Homo sapiens: one gene and its partners. The protein of the gene in region 3 purifies or fractionates together with the protein of the main gene of each other region. This does not show direct contact. Each region holds a gene or a part of one and is shown on either strand. Other genes may lie near its edges. The genes, in order: RNF20, LRP1B and OLFM3.

Region 1 (8,121 bases), on a different chromosome or scaffold from region 3:
CTCCTCCCACCCTTCACTAGGCCCTGGTTTGTGTTGCTCCTCTCTCTCTCTCTCTGTGTCCATGTGTTCTCATCACTTAGCTCCTACTTATAAGTGAGTACGTGCGGTTGTCTGTTCCTGTGTTAGTTTGCTAAGGATAATGGCCTTCAGCTGCATCCATGTCCCTGCAAATGACATGATGTCATTCTTTTTTTATAGCTGCATGGTGTCTCTCGGCTTTTTTTTTTTTTTTTCTTGAAATGGAGTTTCACTCTTTTTGCCCAGGCTGGAGTGCAATGGTGTGATCTCGGCTCACTGCAACCTTTGCCTCCTGGGTTCAAGTGATTCTCCTGCCTCAGCCTCCCGAGTAGCTGGAATTACAGGCGACCACCACCATGCCCAGCTAATTTTGTATTTTTAGTAGGGACAGGGTTTCACCATGTTGGCCAGGCTGGTCTTGAACTCCTGACATCAGGTGATCCGCCCGCCTTGGCCTCCCAAAGTGCTGGGATTACAGGCATAAGCCACCGCGCCCGGCCTTCTCTCAGCTTTTTAAGAGAGCATTAAACTAAATGGGGCTCCTCTGACAATTTGTGACTACCAATTAGCTCTCACGTTTCCATAGACTGTTAGGACACCTTGTCCTCACTCTTTAAAAAAGGCAGACCTGGCTCTAGCTCCCCTGAGTAAGCCACCTCCCTGGTCCCCAGAAATTACAAAGTAAGAGGGCTGAGTATGATGTAGTATAGTGGGCCAGGTGATCTGGGGAGAAGGAGGCAGGGGTATGGAAATGAAGGAGAAAGGTGTGGCGAGGGTGAATGGTAGGAGAAGGGAAAGGTGAGGACAAGAGGAGGGGGCTCGTTTTTGTAGGACACTCCCAGGTGGACCTGGACATCATTACCTAGAGCAGTGTTCCTTAAATGTGCCCAGATAGGAAGCATAATTACAAAAGTAAGAACTTGCATTTTCAGAGAGCTTTCCCCCGGAAATTCTGATTCAGCAAGTCTAGAGCAAGGGCTATGGTATCTAAATGTTTCTGTTTAACGAGTGATACCATGCTAAGTAAAATACAACTTGTTTAAAATAAGGGAGTTCCTGAATTATGTCTGGCATACAATCCAATCCAGATTTCATGGAATATTGGAATGCCTGGAGATATAACAATCTTAGAACAAAACATTTGTAAAGCAGTGTAGAAAAAAACAATAAACAAAAATCCAAAATATCTTAATTTTGTCCATTTTGAGAGCATTAAGCCTACCCTCAGTAGTTGTCCAAGTTTCTAAGAGTTAGGGTGAAGACAGGACATGACTGATGCGCAGTACTGTGCAACCAAAGCTTTAGAAAGGGAACTGGGTAAAGAGGCGTGTCGCCTTATGCCACCTTGTGGCAGAATTGGGTAGTTAATGAAGACCGGCTGGAGGTCGAATGACTTGGGTCCTTCAACAAATACTCATTAAGTCATCATTTGAAAAAAAAAATCACTTAAAATCTGAGTCTGTTTTCTCCTTTTAAAAAAGATTACTATTTGCTTAAATTATGTTTTTGATACAAGCAATGAGACTTTAAAAGTGAAATAAAATATTAAGTATTCTTTTTATCATTGCTAATGCTGTTTTCCCATTTATAAGTGAGGGAAAAACTTATTTTTCCAGGGATATTCCTTTTTCTCTTGATTAAGATGGTGAACAGAAGGTGGCTGGTCAGAAATGAATGGGGAATGCATTCAATGAGAGAGATCTCTGCCATCCTCCTCTTCATCTATTCTATTTTCCCAATTCGCTAGAGTGAGACAGGCTACTTTGAAGATGTCAGATGGCTGACTGAGGTGCTCAGAAAAGACAGATCTCACCAGTAGCTGCAGAATATGGTTACCTACTATGATGGTTAATTTTATGTGTCAATTTCGCTGGGCCACTGTGCCCAAATAGTTGGTGAAACATTATTCTGGATGATTCTGTGAAGGTGTTTTTGTTTGTTTGTTTGTTTGTTTGTTTTTTTGGATGAGATTAATATTTAAATTGGTAGACTAAAGCAGATTACCCTCCAAAATGTAGGTAGGCCTCATCCAATCAGTTGAGAGCCTTAATAGAACAAAGACTAACCTCCCCTGAGCAAGAATGAATTCTGCCAGCAGACTGCCTTTAGACTTAAACTGCAAATCTTTCCTGGGGCTCCAGGTTGCAAACCTGCCTTGTAGATTTTGGTTTATCCAGCCACCACAATCCTGTGAACCAATTCCTTATAATGTCCCTCTCTCTCTTTCTCAAATCTCTTTCTACACACACACACACACACACACACACACACACACACACACACACAGAGTTGATTTTATTTTCTGGAGAGCTGTGACACCTGTGAAGGTGTTAGATAACTGGAACTTTTGAGAAAGACATATATCCCAGTTGCTAGAGAATATGGTTACCTACATGGTGAGAATTGAAAGGTACTAGAAAAGTCTGCTCTCTTTGTAGAATCTTCTCTAACACTCAAGTGTGGGTTGAAGTTAGGGGTGACCTAACTCAGTTGATTGGCTCCATTTCCCTGAGATTCTCTTGGTTCTGCTCACCCCTATGTGGTCGCTCCATTCTCAAGAATGATCTCAGGAAGCCTCCAACAGTTTCAGCCTCACACAGAAAATCTGGAAGATAAAAATCTGCTTCAATTCTAGTATTCAAAGAAATTCACCCTGATTAAAGTGTCAATTGCTGACTAGGACTTTGGCTTGGGAAATGGAACTTAGTATTTAAGACAATCCTTGGAGATTGGGGTGAAATCAGTTTTCCCTAAGACTTAATGGAATCAAAGTGCTATATGGATACATGAAAAAAATCCTGGTTCTGCTAAGGTGAGGGAAGGGGAATAGCTGTTGGGTAGATCACCAATAATGTCCACCAGACACTTACGTAGTACCAGCAATTGATTTATCACAATGTAACACACAAGTGATGATACTCAAATTAAACTATACTAGTGCTAAGGAACCAGTAAAGATTAGTGGGGATTATGGTAAACAAGAATAACATGATCTATTAATAAAAGAGAGCCACGCCAAGCGTGGTGGCTCATTGCCAGTAGCTGTGGCTCAGGCCTGTAATCTCAGCACTTTGGGAGGCTGAGGTGGATGGATCGTCCGAGGTCAGGAGTTTGAGACCGGCCTAGCCAACATGGCGAAACCCCATCTCTACTAAAAATACAAAAATTAGCCAGGTGTGGTGGCGTGTGCCTGTGATCCCACCCACTTGGGAGGCTGAGGCATGGGAATTGCTTGAACCTGTGAGGTGGAGTTTGCAGTGAGCCGAGATTGTGCCACTGCACTCCAGCCTGGGTGACAGAGTAAGACTCTGTCTCGAAAAAAAGAAAAAAAAAAAAAAAGAAGAAGCCACTACTTTGCTCTAAGCAATGTGACCATGCAAAAATATAACCCTTCTGTTGCAAGATCATCAACATTTTTTAGAGAAACTGATAATTTGGATTTTTATGTAAAATAGCCATATTTTAAATGTTGGCAACTAAGTTCATTTTTGTTCTTGTTTTTAACCACGCAGGACAGCCAATACTGTCTAAAATAAACAAAGCATAACTGTTGGCTAAATGCAGTCTGTGAACCTCTAGTTTTCTGGGCTAGAAAAACCATTACTTGCCATTCAGTAGTTCTATGAATGAAAGGCTTGCTAAGAGTAGAGGAACCAAAGAAGATGAGAGAATGAGTGTCATTGTCTCATACAATGCTTTTCGGCAGGTGTGTCCCCACTCACATGTTCTCAGGCTCCCACTTCACGGAATGAAATGTGAAGTCCACTTGGGGCCAGTTAATTCTTTCCAAGATAGTCAAGGTGTTCCACTGCCAGGCACCAGGAACACTTGTTTCCCTGGTGTTGACCATCTTACTTCATTTACAGGTAAGCCCTAGCAGGTACAGGGACAAAAGTCTTCACACTAACAGAAATCCAGTGTAGATTAGCTTCTTTTTTTCCCAAGATGCCTAAATTCTATTTTTTAAAAAAGATATAGCGATCATTCTTCCATTTCTAGACCCTTAGCTGACGTCATTAGGTAGTTTATCATAGTTCTGCGAGACATACAGCTTTTCATTAATAGGTTAGATTAATTACCGTCCTATCATTAAAACGCATTTAGTTTAACTGAATGGAAAATAGCAGTTTGTCATAAACTTAAAAAAAAAAATCAATGCTTAATTAGCTTAAAATAGACTAGTACTGAGATCAGAGACTGATTGGCGTTTATCTTTTCCCTGGACAATTTCTTGTTCCCAAAAAAGCACAAGGGCAGTAGTTGTCACTCCTGCTTACGCATTAGAATCTAGTGGATGGAAATGCGGGGTTTGGGGGGAGGAGATGAGGGGAACGCTTTTTTAAAAAAGCTTTTGTCCAGGCCAAGTGATTCTAATGTGTAGACAGGGCAGAATACCGCTCCCTGTGCGGGGGAAAAAATCCCCAACATCTGAAATTCCTCAAATCCCTCAGATTCTCTCCAGAACTCTTCATTTCAGCACGTAGGGGTACCAACGAACAATTTTCTGAGGTGTCTGAGGCTAGTCATGTCCCCGGAGATTGACGGGACCGTCAGCCAATCGGCCGTCTGAACGAGTGATGGCAACCCCAATGACAAGCAACAGAATGAGGAACTTTATCCCCGCAGAAAGACCAGATCGCAGTAGCAAAGGTCAACAAGTCAACAAAAGCCAAGGGCTCTCCGTCAGGCATCAGCGAGGCCCGAGTACTCTTAGAGGTCGTAGCCAGGAGAGGGTCCCGCGCTTGCCCAGCGTTGCTAGGGAGGCGGCGCTTGCTCAAGCTTCTCGTGCCCTCTCCGTACGTCACTTCCGCCCGGCGGGGTCTCATAGTCCTATGGGCTGGGTTGAAGCCACTTCCTTTTTTCTTTCCCTTTTTCCTCTCCGTGGCCCCGCCTCCCGGAAGTTCTGCCTTGTCTCCGCCGCGGGTCAGGGGTGAGAGCTGGAATCTCTGCACGGGCCTTGGTGAGTAACTGCTGCGAGTTCTGTTCCCGCGCGGCGCCAGTTCAAAGAACTTAGGTTAGATCACGCTTAGGGCCCAACAGGACTGTGCCAGGCCTCAGGAGTCTCCACCCTCTCCAGTTTTGGGGCCGTCAGTCTCCTGGGCCTGCAATTATCCACGCTGAGGCTGAGGTCTTTGGCTTTTAGCGAGTTGGATTGCAGCCTTGTTCTGCTTCTGTGTCTTCTCTCTCCAGGCGAGGTCCTACTGAGGTTGTTGCCAGCGATAGTCCTCTCCTGGAGCTTGAATTGGAAGCAGAGTAGTCTTGTTAGTCTCGGTGATGGCTGCGTTGTTTCCTGAAGTAGCCAAAGTGCTTTAGCATCCATTCCGCCTCCTTTGAGCACCCTGGGAGGTAGGCAGGGCAGACGAAAAATATATTCGTTAATATTGTGCAGTTGAGGAAACTGAAGCTCTTGGCGAATTCACTGTTTCAAAGCAACACGGCCTCTAACAGGCAGAACTGAAATTCGCACCCAGGTCTAACTAACGTAGGGTTGCATAAAACAGTGGAGAGAGCGTTTGGAAATAGGGAAAACACTGCAAACGTTAAAGAAGAGCTGGGGTTTCTGAGTGCTTACTTTGTGTTCGGCTTTGTGCCAAATTCTTTCTATAATTATATCATCCATTTTATTTTATAATAAGCATAGGAAGTATATACTGTGGTTATTTATTCCTGGGTTAGGAAACTGAGGCTTAGAGATGATAACTGACTTGTCTAGTACTAATGACTTTAGTAGGCATTTCACAGATCTCTTTCAGCTCTGTGATTCTTTCAACACTGTAGTATTAACTTCTGGCATAATCAAACTGCCCTTTTCTGATTTTGGCATTACAGGAAGAGAGATTCCAGAACTTTATTTTTGGTCTCTTCACCCTTTGCCCATTGTCTCATTTCTTATCACCATTCTTATCACCATCCTATTTAGAAATTTATAGTCATGTAAATTTAGCCTTGACTTTCTTTTTTTTTTTTTTTTGAGACGGAGTCCCGCTCTGTTGCCCAGGCTGGAGTGCTGTGGTGCGATCTCGGCTCACTGCAAGCTCCGCCTCCCGGGTTCAAGTGATTCTCCTGCCTTAGCCTCCCGAGTAGCTGGGACTACCGGCGCCCGCCACCACGCCTGGCTAATTTTTTGTATTTTTAGTAGAGACGGGGTTTCACCGTGTTAGGCAGGATGGTCTCGATCTTCTGACCTCTTGATCCGCCCGCCTCGGCCTCCCAAAGTGCTGGGATTACAGACATGAGCCACCGCGCCCGGCCCGCCTTGACTTTTACTCTACAATTTAATTTTTTTTTTTTTTCCTCAAAGAGAAATATGGAGATGGTTGTGGAATTAATGGATCCAGGTTAAAGGGTTGGCCAGAAAAGTTGCTAGTTTTTACTCTATTGTTTTACTCTATTGTTGCTTTGCTTACATATATTATGTCAGTTTCTGCCTTTTTTTCTATCAGGAAAACGACTGTCTTCTTCTGCCAAAATGTCAGGAATTGGAAATAAAAGAGCAGCTGGAGAACCTGGCACCTCCATGCCTCCTGAGAAGAAGGCAGCTGTTGAAGATTCAGGGACCACAGTGGAAACAATTAAGCTAGGAGGTGTCTCTTCAACGGTATGAGGAAACAGTGCCATGAAAGTGTGCTTGTCTTCTGTCAGTTGCAACTTGAAACTAAAAATTCATGGAAGCTTTCTGGAGTATGGGGAAGCTATTTGAAAAGAAGAGGGAAATAAAACAGGCTGAAAGTAGGTAAAATGATGTGGTAGTCAGTTCTAGAGGAGAGGTAGATTGATAGTTGTTCTTTGTTTTCAAGGTGTACTTATATTCTTTCGAGAATCTGGGAAGGTGGTGCCTGATACAACATTAACTATAGGTATTTAGCAGTGGGAAGATACACATTTATTTTTCATTCACTGAAAAAGTCAGTACCAGATTCTAAGAGACAGTTTAGCAATCATTGAGAGTATGGTGAAGAGTGAGAGTCTGAGACCAGATTGCCTGGAGTTGACTCTGAGCTGTACCACTTCCTAGCTGGCTGACCTTGTGTTATCCTTCCTTTGCCTGTTTTCTTGTCTGTAAAATGTAATTAGAGTACCTGCTACATTAGATTTTTATGCATATAAAATAAGAGTCCCTGTTAAGGGCTAACACTTTGCATTTAATATAGTAAATAGTCAATAAATGGGAGGCATTCATAGCTAATATTGGGCTAGATAATATAATGGTGCATAACATAGATATTATCCTTGCTCTTATGGAGCTGACAAAATGAGTATTATATACCAAAATCTCATAGTAATGTTATATATCTGTTAGACATCAGAAGTTTACAGGTTTTGATCTACGTCAAGATTTTGCTTTTTTGAAAATCAGACATGGGGATGTGATATTAAAATGTTTTACATTTTGTAAAATGCTTTACATTTGTATGGCTTGCAAAACCACATCTATTGCTTATTTGATTTTGAGGCTGAGGTTTATTTTAGAGAGGCTGATTTTTTTTTTTGAGTCAGAATAATAGGAACATTCATAGTGAGTTGTTGATGAAGTGTCATTTCTGAGGCTGCCTGAGGTTCTGGTACTTAATATTGCTGGCAGGAAGTGATTTTTGTTTTAGCACTGCCTTGCATCATGCATTCCAAAGGCATTTATTCACTCAATATATAAATATTTGTTGAGTATTTGTTATTTGCCAGACACTATCCTTTACACTGAAGACAGCCCCTAGACTTTAGTTTGTAGGGTAGCACTGACAAGGGAATAGACTGTTTAGAGTGGGGTATGTGCTGTTGACAGGGATAAGCACATACTTATGGGAAGCACATAGCACACACCCCAGTGTGGACTTTATCCAGAGGCAATGAGGAGTTAGTGGATAGTCTTAAGTAGGAGACTAACATGCTCTGACTTGTGTTTGGAGACTATAGAAAAGCAAGGATTATAAACAAGAGTCCAGCTAGCAGACTTTTTTCTTTTCTTCTTCTTACTCTCTTTCGCTATAACTGCATCTCTCCAAAGGTGGGGATCTGAGGCATGTATCCACTGATCCCCGCTCCAATTGGTTGAAGGTTGCCATTGAAAGCAGTCCCTCCTGTGCATTTTGAGATTGCTGTTAGGAG
Region 2 (7,677 bases), on a different chromosome or scaffold from region 3:
AAGAGAATTACCTGATCTTCATTTCTGTGCCAGCATGAACATTTTTTGGTTATCTCAGGTTTTCTTTATCATATGTAACAAAGGATCTAAATCATACTCACTTAGGGAAGCCAGAAAAGTAGGAAGAAATGGCACATTTATTGTAAAAATTGCAACTCAAATTCGAGCTCTAGGGAAACAGTTTAGCAATCAAAGAAGAGAATTTTAAATCCAGAGAAAATGATTAATGCCAACTAGTCTTGCTTTTCACAACTGTTCACATATGTAGAGTATAAGGATAACATTTAATACTGTTTCTCTTAAAAAATAGACTTATTTATTATTTTCTTTCACTCCATTACCCTTCTCACACAAAAATCAGAGCTTTGTCACTAATGTTAGCTGTCTCAAATTTATTCATGGGCATTTATAATAATTTGAATGTGTATTTTTTCAGGTTGAGTATAACTGCCTGTGACAGGAAAAAAAAAAGTTTTTCCTGAAAAGTATACCTGTATCTAGACTAATTCTGATGTCAATCTGTACAGTTGTCAGAAGACAAATACAATTAACTTTCAGGGTCCATTAAGGGTTTGCTAGGCCTTTGGGCGCTCCAGTGCTACCAAATGTGATCTTTTTACCTATTTATCCAAATGTCAATAATCAGTTGGAAATTAACTCATGATATGTGCTCATTGCACTGTCTTCCTGCTCAAAACTGTTAGAGTCTAGTTAAGACAATAAAGACATTTGTATTATGACAGTTTCTGATAAAATTTCTATAATTCTGAAAGCCACTTTTAAATGTCCCTTTTAAAATTATATGTTTTTAAATTTATAAGTGCAAGCTTATTTAAATAAAGAACATTTTTTAGTTTAACAAATACTATTTTATTATTCAGATAAAATTCAGTTACACAATATAGCATTTGATTTGGACAAGTTTAATATTTTCTAGATTTCAGAAAGTATTTTTAGTAGGGCTACATGTGCCCATCTGATACTCTAAAATCAGTTTTTCTTGGCTATATCATATAGTGAACACGTTTTTCACAACTGCAAAATTTGAACTCAAATAGGTTCAAACTCAATAGTAATTTTGTCAGTCAATGTTAATATCAGTAGGGTCTGAACCTACTGGTCAAAAACCAGGGACAAATATTTTCATTTCTTCCTATTGCTAAAGACCACATTTAGATGCCAAGAATCTATGTTCATTAATGATATCTCAGGTGCATCTATGTAAGTTATTACCTTAAATTACAAGTCTCTTTCTGCAGTTTTACGAGCTTGGAGAGGGTTCTTTCTCTACATTTGGTTTATAATCCCCAAAGTTTCTCAAGGTGCAAATTCCATTCATTTCTTTACTTTCAATTTCAGTTTAAGGAGCAAATAAATTATTATTTGCTTGACATAAAATGTTTACTTAATTTTGATAGGATTAAAACCTTTTACTTTTATTCAGTTGATAAATTATTTAACTCTAAAAGTGAGTCCTACACAGAAAGATTTGGCTTCACATATAATGATACCATATCTAATCACTACTGTTTTCCACAGGAAAAGAATTGTGTAAATTCTGGATTAAAAAATAGTTTTACTTAGAATAATTTTATGCATTTTTTTTTACATTTATCTCAGCCTCTTGCATGAAAGTATCACAAATTTAAAATGAATAGGGGTTACTTGGAAAAAAAGAGAGTGACTTCTTTCTCAGAGCTAAGACCTTTTTCATATTTTGTTTTCTGTGTGTGTCTGTGTTTTTTTTTTTTTTTTTTTTTTTTTTTTTTTTTTTTTTTGAGACAGTCTCACTCTGTTCCCCATGCTGGAGTGCAATGGTGTGATCTTGGCTCACTGCGGACTCTGTGTCCCGGGTTCCAGTGATTCTCCTGCCTCAGCCTCCCAGGTAGCTGGGACTACAGGCACATGCCACCATGCTAGGCTAATTTTTGTATTTTTAGTAGAGAAGGGGTTTCACCATGTTGGCCAGGCTTGTCTCAAACTCCTTACCTCAAGTGATACGCCTGCCTCAGCCTCCCAAAGTGTTAGTATTACAGGTGTGAAGCCACTGTGCCAGGACTGTTTTTTGGTTTTAAATATGGAGATTTTTTGTTACGCATCTTATAGCTAAGGAAAAATAACATTTGATATAATATCATTATATATTTCTGTGTTATCTTTCTATTTGGTGAGACAGTGTATTCTAGGGAAGACAATATAGGCCTGGATTAGTAAAGCCTGAGTGTGGTTCTTGGCTTGCCCTCTTATTGGCCATGTGGACTGTGGATCATTTACTTCCTAGTCATAATTACCATAGCTGTGAGAATTAGGGCTAAGTAGGTTGGTTGCTACAAAAGTAATTGTGCTTTTTGCCATTACTTTTAATAGCAATAAACACATTTATTTGTGTACCAACCTATAAATAGCTTATTTGATCTGTTCACTCAAAATAATATTTTTATTAGTGCATTTGCAAGTAGATTAACATTAATTAAAATCTTTAATATGCACATTTCTTTTCTTATGTGAACTTTGGAATATGTTAAAAATAGATGATAAGAATCAGATTAGACAGGTAAGCACATGTCTGCCCTGGTCTCACAGTGCCTCCTTCACAGTATAACATTACCTGCCATTTTAATACATGTTTTTCCTTAAAAAGTTAAGTGTAGCAATACATTTCATTTGCGAGTTAGTTATTTTATATTGAATAATATTTTTCATCCACTGACAGCGTACCTTAAAGTCTTAAAAATCTTGACGTTAATAAAGGTGTAGATTTTTAAATGCCTGCTTCAATTATATCTTACCAATAAAATATTAGTTGGATTTTATGCTACAAAGTTTTTCCTTTCTGATTTATAAAGCTTGTAAATATGAATGAAATTTTCTTCAGGATTAATATAATTGAGATTGTAGCCATACCTCATTTTTGTTTGTCTGTAAAACTCTACAATGTTTATTTTACACAGCATTTTCAAGAAAAATATCAACTATTAAAACAAATTAATATACATAAATAATACATATATTTTTATCTAGTTAAGTATCACTTTGTACTTAAATAACTCCAGTGAGTATAAACAAAATATAAGTCTTTAATTTTTCTGTATGCAGTCTCACTGATTCTTACGTGACTATTCACATATATTATTCAAATATCCTGACGAGGCTGCAGGAAAAAGGGAATGCTTAAACACTGTTGGTGAGGATGTAAATTAGTTCAGCCACTGTGGAAAGCAGTTTGGAGATTTTACAAGGAACTTAAAACAGAGCTACCATTCAAATAATCCCATTACTGGGCATATACCCAAAGGAAAATGCATCATTATACCAAAAAGACACATGCACTCATATGTCCATCACCCTGCTTTTCACAATTGCAAAAACGTAACATAAACCTAGGTGCCCGTCAATAGTAGACTGCAAAAAGAAAATGTACATCTATACTGTGGAATACTTTGAAGCAATGAAAACAGCCCTTTTGCAGCAACATGGCTGGAGCTGGAGGCCATAAACCTAAATGAATTGATGCAGGAACAGAAAAGCAAGCACTGAGTGTTCTCACTTATAAGTGGGAGCTAAGCATTGAGCACACATGAACATGAACATGGGAACAAGAGACACTGTGGACTACTTGGGGATTGGGGGAACTACCCATTAGGTACTATGTTGACTATTTAGGTGCCATATAACTTCTAAGAACTAGAAAAAGATACAATAATTTTTAAAAATTAGGAACTATACACCCAGCTGTTGAATCAATGCTTCCCATATTTTTTAAAACTTTATTCACTGCTGATGTCTGATAGTTGGATAAAAACTTCAGTAGATGTAACTTCAAATTAAGAATTAAGAAGGAATTATATTTATCTAAAAGCATGGATTTCTGTATAGTCCTATGAATATCGAATTTTTTGAATGAATGAGTGAAATACATGGATTATGTACATTCTGTTTTTCTACATTTTATTTTATGACATGTTGTTTTATTTTGGCATACTATATGTGTTCTTTCTGCATGACATTTTCTTTCACATAGTCCCCCATTACATTTTGTTTTATAAGATTACTAAAATAAGAATTTCTGCTTTTGCATAAAACCGTATTTTAAGATGACTTCACAAGATAACATAAAATTCAAACTAGATTAGTTACATTTAGCAGTCTAAGTAGAAAAAATAGAAAGTTATGATGCATTCATGTCTATATTCATAAATTAAATATGTATTTACCACAAAATTTCTAATTACCTGGTGCTAAAGGAGTAATAGTGAATGAAAATAGAGGAGTGATCACTGTCCTTGTTGAGCTTACAGTCTAGTGGGGGCAAAAAATATTTATAATAAATGATAATGTAAGGAAATACAAGTGGAAATTTGCCATTCTAATCTGTGTTGTGAAGCAGAGCACATGGTACAGGGAAGACACAGAAGGCTTCTGGAAAGAAATAGTTGAGATATGAAAAGTAGGAAGTAATTAGGCAAACAGATTGGAGAAGAGCATTTGAGACAGGAAATAGCAGGCACAAAAGGTATTTTGGTAGGATGTTGAGTGCATCCTATGATTTGTATGACTGGTTAACTATTTTTTTACGATAAAAATTATTTTATCGGAACCATAAGCACACTGTATATTAACTTCCGAAATGTATTATTTTTATTCTAGTGTGAATGCTACTGCTGTTATTAGTAATGTCTTTTTGCATAGCTCTGCATACTACAAATAAATGTACATAAACACTACAAATTAACAATTTAATTTCAGCCTCTTGTTCTGGACTGAATGGGGACAAATGCCCTGTATTGGAAAGGCTCGCTTGGATGGCTCAGAGAAGGTTGTCCTTGTAAGCATGGGAATAGCATGGCCGAATGGCATCTCCATCGACTATGAGGTCTGTTGGATTTCTTTTCAGTATTTAAAGTGCCTTAACTGACAACTTTAATTTACCTACTTTTAGTGTTCCTTTATTTTCTTAATAAAACAATCAAATATAGTCTGTAACGTTACTTCTTAATCGATATTTAGGAAAATAAATTGTACTGGTGTGATGCTCGCACAGACAAGATAGAGAGAATCGACCTTGAGACTGGAGGGAATCGCGAGATGGTGCTGTCAGGAAGCAATGTGGATATGTTTTCAGTTGCAGTCTTTGGGGCTTACATCTACTGGTCTGACAGGTAATTTATTTTTTCATAAGTATTTGAGTCTCAAAATGTTATTTCAGTGCCAGTTGCTTTACCCTTGTAGGATTTACCATTTCTTAGCAAGGTCACAAAAAGGAACTCACAAAGCCAGTAATTTCCACAGAAAAGGCAGGTACTCTTGCTATTCCAAGCTGAAGCATTTCAATGTCACAGACTAAAGTTGGTTTCTTTCCCTTCTGTTGGTCCATCTGTTATCTTCAGCTTAAGTAACTGGCTTGACTTTAATTAGTCGAAGATTGTTGATCATGTATGTTCAACTTTTTGGCAGAGCACATGCAAACGGGTCTGTCAGAAGGGGCCACAAGAATGATGCCACAGAAACGATAACCATGAGAACCGGCCTTGGAGTCAACCTGAAGGAGGTTAAAATATTTAACCGAGTAAGAGAGAAAGGTCAGCACTCTTGAAAGAATACATAATATGTATATTTTATGTGATTTCTCTCCAATTTTTAAAAACATTGTCAAACTTAGAAATTCTTCTATAAGTCTAAAACCTCAAAACATTATCTTTACATCTAATTTCCTGCAAGTATCATATAGTAGCCTAATACAATAAATATGTCATATTTCATACAAAAGCGTATTTGCCCAGGACAGCACAGGTACATGGACATGTTACATACCTGGCATGTCTTGATTATAGGTTTTGGCTAAGGAATATAGAAAAACTTGAAACATGTATTGATTGGATAAAAAATTAAAAGCATAAGTAGGATATTAATAAAAGGCAGTTGAAATTTTTATACATAATATGAATCATATTATATAATAAGTGGTTATGATCCCAAAGGTGATGCTGTTAATGTAAAATATTTCCAAAGTCATTACTTCCTTAAAATATTTATTCTAAACTTACAGGACAATGATTTGGGTATTTAAAATTTGTTTACCTCCATTAAAATAAATTGTAACTAACTTTTTTGTATCAAAGGAAGTTATAATAATGTTGGAGATAATAATAATGAATTCACAAAGGAGAATTAGACTGGTGAAGAAATTTTAAGTGCATTTTTTATCTTCACTTAAAATTGGAGTAAGAACTTATGCTCAGCATATTTAGGAGGTTAGGCACATTGTAGCTATAGATTTCTTTGATGCTTTCCATATCTCAAAGATAGAGTTTAAAGCAGTGCATTATTTCTGGTGAGATCAATTCATGTTTTAAATGAACAATATATGAAACACTATAAGTATCAAGTTTCAAAAAAGATTTATATACTTAACTGGTTCATTAAGGGAAAAATTTAATGCTTAACTTGGATGGTGAATGAAACAGACTATGATTTTCCAAATAAAGAAACCCAAGATTTAAACTGCTGTGATTTTTTAAAAAACAATACTTTTTTAATTTTTTATTGACCAGCTTAAAATTAAGAGCAAAAAGAGAATATTCAACATCAAAGTTTTAATATTTCTTTATGGAGAATTTTGTTTCAAAAACAAAAGAAAAACATAAACATGTGCATGTGTGTATCATTTTTCTTCATTAGGGACCAATGTTTGTGCCAGGGACAATGGTGGCTGTAAGCAACTCTGTCTTTATCGAGGAAATTCCCGGAGAACTTGTGCTTGTGCCCATGGATATTTGGCAGAAGATGGAGTTACTTGCCTGAGGCATGAAGGCTATTTACTGTATTCAGGAAGAACAATATTAAAAAGTATACATCTTTCTGATGAAACCAATTTAAATTCCCCAATAAGGCCATATGAGAATCCACGTTATTTCAAGAATGTCATAGCCTTGGCTTTTGACTATAATCAAAGAAGAAAAGGTACCAACCGAATCTTTTACAGTGATGCACACTTTGGAAATATACAGCTTATTAAAGACAACTGGGAAGACAGACAAGTAATTGTTGAAAGTAAGTACAGTAATTCAATTTTAAATAGGTGGAAATGAGTATCATTTAGATTACTAGAGAAATAATAGTGGTAATTGCATGTAGCAATTACATTTTCCTAGATTTTATATTCAGGAATGAATGTGACTATATCATCTAACCCTCACCCCCCACCCCCCCGCCAAATGTCAAAGAAGCAATTAATTGCTAGCATGTACAGCAAATTATGATTATTACCTTCTAATCATGGAAGGTTTAATATGTTTTATCATAATGTTTCTTATAAATAACTGCACTAAAATTCATGAAAAATCATTTTTCAGTGTAAAACTATTCTAATTGATTTTTTTTTTCCAGTGGGCAAATTGTATATTTAAGAATATCTGTTCAGTAATAGTTAATCATAGTTTCTCAAGCAAACATCAGAGATTTTTTTTCTGTATATATGTGTATATATATAAAATATATATATAATATATATTATATATGATATATCATGTATATGTAGCAGATGAGAAAATGTTATGGAAATGATCTAATATTTTTAATGTTTTTATGGGACATAATTATTCAAGCATAGTGTTCAGTGAGGATTATCCACATAATTTAGGGAAACCTTTTTCCTGTCATTCAAGTTTAACAAAAACC
Region 3 (3,544 bases):
AAAGCCTGAAATACATTGCGGCAGGTCAGCAGTAAGATAGTGTGGCTTCCAGAGCCTGAGAATTATAATAAGTGTTGACTCTCACTGTCTTTCTTTTGGGGTTATCAGAAAAGTACAGAATTTAGTCACTCCATTTATTTTTTTCCTTCTTCTCAGGTCTGGTACATGGACAGTTATACTAACAATAAAATTGTTCGTGAATACAAATCAATTGCAGACTTTGTCAGTGGGGCTGAATCAAGGACATACAACCTTCCTTTCAAGTGGGCAGGAACTAACCATGTTGTCTACAATGGCTCACTCTATTTTAACAAGTATCAGAGTAATATCATCATCAAATACAGCTTTGATATGGGGAGAGTGCTTGCCCAACGAAGCCTGGAGTATGCTGGTTTTCATAATGTTTACCCCTACACATGGGGTGGATTCTCTGACATCGACCTAATGGCTGATGAAATCGGGCTGTGGGCTGTGTATGCAACTAACCAGAATGCAGGCAATATTGTCATCAGCCAACTTAACCAAGATACCTTGGAGGTGATGAAGAGCTGGAGCACTGGCTACCCCAAGAGAAGTGCAGGGGAATCTTTCATGATCTGTGGGACACTGTATGTCACCAACTCCCACTTAACTGGAGCCAAGGTGTATTATTCCTATTCCACCAAAACCTCCACATATGAGTACACAGACATTCCCTTCCATAACCAATACTTTCACATATCCATGCTTGACTACAATGCAAGAGATCGAGCTCTCTATGCCTGGAACAATGGCCACCAGGTGCTGTTCAATGTCACCCTTTTCCATATCATCAAGACAGAGGATGACACATAGGCAAATGTGACATGTTTTCATTGATTTAAACAGTGTGATTTGTGATAAACTCTATAAGACCCCTTCCGTTTTTTTCTTCACTATTATTTTTCATCATTTCTCCAAAGCAAAGCATTTTTATTGTAAAGTTGGTGTTTCAAAAACATAGCTGAGCTTGTCTAACTTACCATGTTGGAAACACATCTTAACTTCTAAATTTACAAGGCCTATCATGTCCTTGTCATGAAAAGCACTAAAAAAAAAAAGAGTTTAAGTGGCTAAAGTCATAGTTTTGCAAGAGATTAATGATCTGCCTTATATTAGAGTCAGAGACTAATGGTGGCTTAAATGCACGAATGTCTTTTTTTTTAAAACTGTCATTTTTTACTGTCTTTTGCTCCATATCAGGAAATATTTTGGTAGGAATTAGGAGAACAAAAAGCACTTTTATCCCATTTATTTCTTTAAAAAATGTAAGGATTTCATTTATATTGAAAAATAATATTAATCATTTTGCTGTTAACACAATTCTCTGATGCGGTGCTGTACAGTCATTTTTAAATCTCTTGCTAACATTTTATTGGCAGTATGTATTTCTACCATTGTAACCACCATTGTGCTATTGTATCTCTTCACTTCTGTGAAAGTAATATTTTTTATAAAATACACTGAAATTTAACCTCAGTAATTGAGTCCATTTTCAAGTGTGGTCAAGAATAATCTTCTTGGCTTACCCCTTTACATAAGCATTATAAACTAAAATGAAAACCAAACCAGACACCTGACATAGAGTCTTTATTTTACCCCAAGTTTTTTGGGCCACTGACATTGAATGCAACAACTGATTTCATACAACTGAGTTACTCTGTTCACTCCACTGAATGCAACCCATATAGTTTCTTGCACAAGGTGCATCTGGATTCCAAATATTGGATTTGAGTTGACTCTACTCATTTATTATACACTAAAGAAATTTTGTTCTTCATAGTTAAATGTACTAGCATTTAATTTATATTTTACATACAACTTGCAATAATGAAATTCCTTATGTCAGGACCCTGAAAATAAGCACATTTGAAAACTCTTAGAAAAAAAAAATTCTGTAATGTCCTCTAGATTTAGATTATGAGCCCTGAGGAGTTATTGGCAAGATTTGTGCAAAATAAAATATGGGGAGACTTGGGAGTTGTCTTTGTGGTTTCAAAAGTGTAAATAACCAATTCAGAAAACAAAATGGAAAAACGACCCCTTGTTACCTTGATTCACTGTATGTGGAAAAATAATGTAACCAAAAGGGAAGAGCTTTAATAATACTTATGTTAATAACTCTATGAAACATATAAGCTAACTATATATCAAACATTTCATTGAGTTTGGATGTATTTTCCACATATTAAAAAAATAGTTCCCTAAGGCAGCTTTATGGAAACTAATATAGGTTGGTTTTACAATTTAAAAAGTATATTCTATAATAAATAATAAAACAAATTGTTTTAAATGTTTAGTTTCACACATACATAGTACCATGATTTTCTTTGAAAGATAAGGATGTAATGATTTAGATAAAGCATCATGTAAAGAAATCCTAACATTTAAGTGTAATTCATTTCAAATGTCACAAGTAAAGCATCATCCTCAAATATCTCACTGTCAAAATTGTAGAATTAAATAACCCAATCTTGAAACTGTCAAGGTTTAACAATGATTTCTTTTTTTGCCTACAAAAAGTTAACATGATTGAATGACTACTCTGGGTCCTTTTGCAATATTTTATTCTTTTTTTAACGAGTTTACATAAGCTCTGGTTTGCTACTGGGAGTTGGAAAATTTAAGAGATTCACTTGTCATTGTACACACACCACAAAAACAACCAGTCTGTGTTCCATATATTGAGTTTGTATGAGGAAAGAAAGTCACTTTAATTTTAAAAATGAATGAAATTTTAAGTAGATAGCCTCTAATAGATATCTGGATCATCATTACTTGTTTAAAATGATGTTATATGGTACCACATACATTCACAATTTGGCTGATCACAGCTTATTCATGAGGTATGAAACTTGCAAACCACTTTATTGTTTTCTATGTAAGATTTTATCATGATTTCCAATTTATAGTGTATGTGCTGCTAGAGCAAGCACAGATATTATTATTGTCACTAGAAGTGGGGAAACATGAATTTTAAAATGTGATAATCATTAAACATTTACAGTTTAAAAGCATTTTTTCTTAATAAATTATTATCAGTTTTTTGCCTGAAATAAATAAGAACTACTCTATTCACTGTTTTTTTAATCTCCAACAAAGAAAATAAATCTTACGAGGGAAATAATGAGTATTTTTAAATCACGCACATAATCAAAGCATTGGAGAAATCCAAGCTCAGAAAGTCTTAATCCTAACTGAACTACGTAACTGATATTTTCTGAATTGGCCAGAACATTAACAAGCTTTCATATCACTCAAATAATAATATGTTCATGGTCTGATTGTGTTTGTGTGTTATTTGTGGCGCTTGAATCACAATGCTTATTATTTGCACCTAAACTTACATCTACGAGTTCAGATAATGATAGTATTTCAGTATGTTTCCAATATGTAGAGATAAAAGAAAAAAGAACAGCAGATGTGTTATATAAATAGAACTATGATTAGTTAAGATTCATTACAAACTCCGAATCTCTGATTCGTGTCTCCATACTCATGGAGTCATTTCACCTTTGTAGTCAGT

What was found.
Region 1: the proteins of OLFM3 (region 3) and RNF20 purify together in Homo sapiens (affinity purification with mass spectrometry; 2 studies listed by BioGRID and IntAct, with this or other methods). This does not show direct contact.
Region 2: the proteins of OLFM3 (region 3) and LRP1B purify together in Homo sapiens (affinity purification with mass spectrometry; 2 studies listed by BioGRID and IntAct, with this or other methods). This does not show direct contact.

Annotation. Positions count from the first base shown.
Region 1 is NC_000009.12:101,528,937-101,537,057, forward strand, and holds the start of RNF20 (E3 ubiquitin-protein ligase BRE1A), read left to right. Parts: upstream 1-4,916; 5' UTR 4,917-4,978; exon of another isoform or gene 4,979-5,364; intron 5,365-6,461; 5' UTR 6,462-6,487; coding exon 6,488-6,616; intron 6,617-8,121. UniProt on the Homo sapiens protein: Component of the RNF20/40 E3 ubiquitin-protein ligase complex that mediates monoubiquitination of 'Lys-120' of histone H2B (H2BK120ub1).
Region 2 is NC_000002.12:140,699,623-140,707,299, reverse strand, and holds part of LRP1B (low-density lipoprotein receptor-related protein 1B precursor), read left to right. Parts: intron 1-4,746; coding exon 4,747-4,873; intron 4,874-5,007; coding exon 5,008-5,159; intron 5,160-5,454; coding exon 5,455-5,579; intron 5,580-6,678; coding exon 6,679-7,050; intron 7,051-7,677. UniProt on the Homo sapiens protein: Potential cell surface proteins that bind and internalize ligands in the process of receptor-mediated endocytosis.
Region 3 is NC_000001.11:101,801,528-101,805,071, reverse strand, and holds the end of OLFM3 (noelin-3 isoform 2 precursor), read left to right. Parts: intron 1-156; coding exon 157-834; 3' UTR 835-2,512; downstream 2,513-3,544.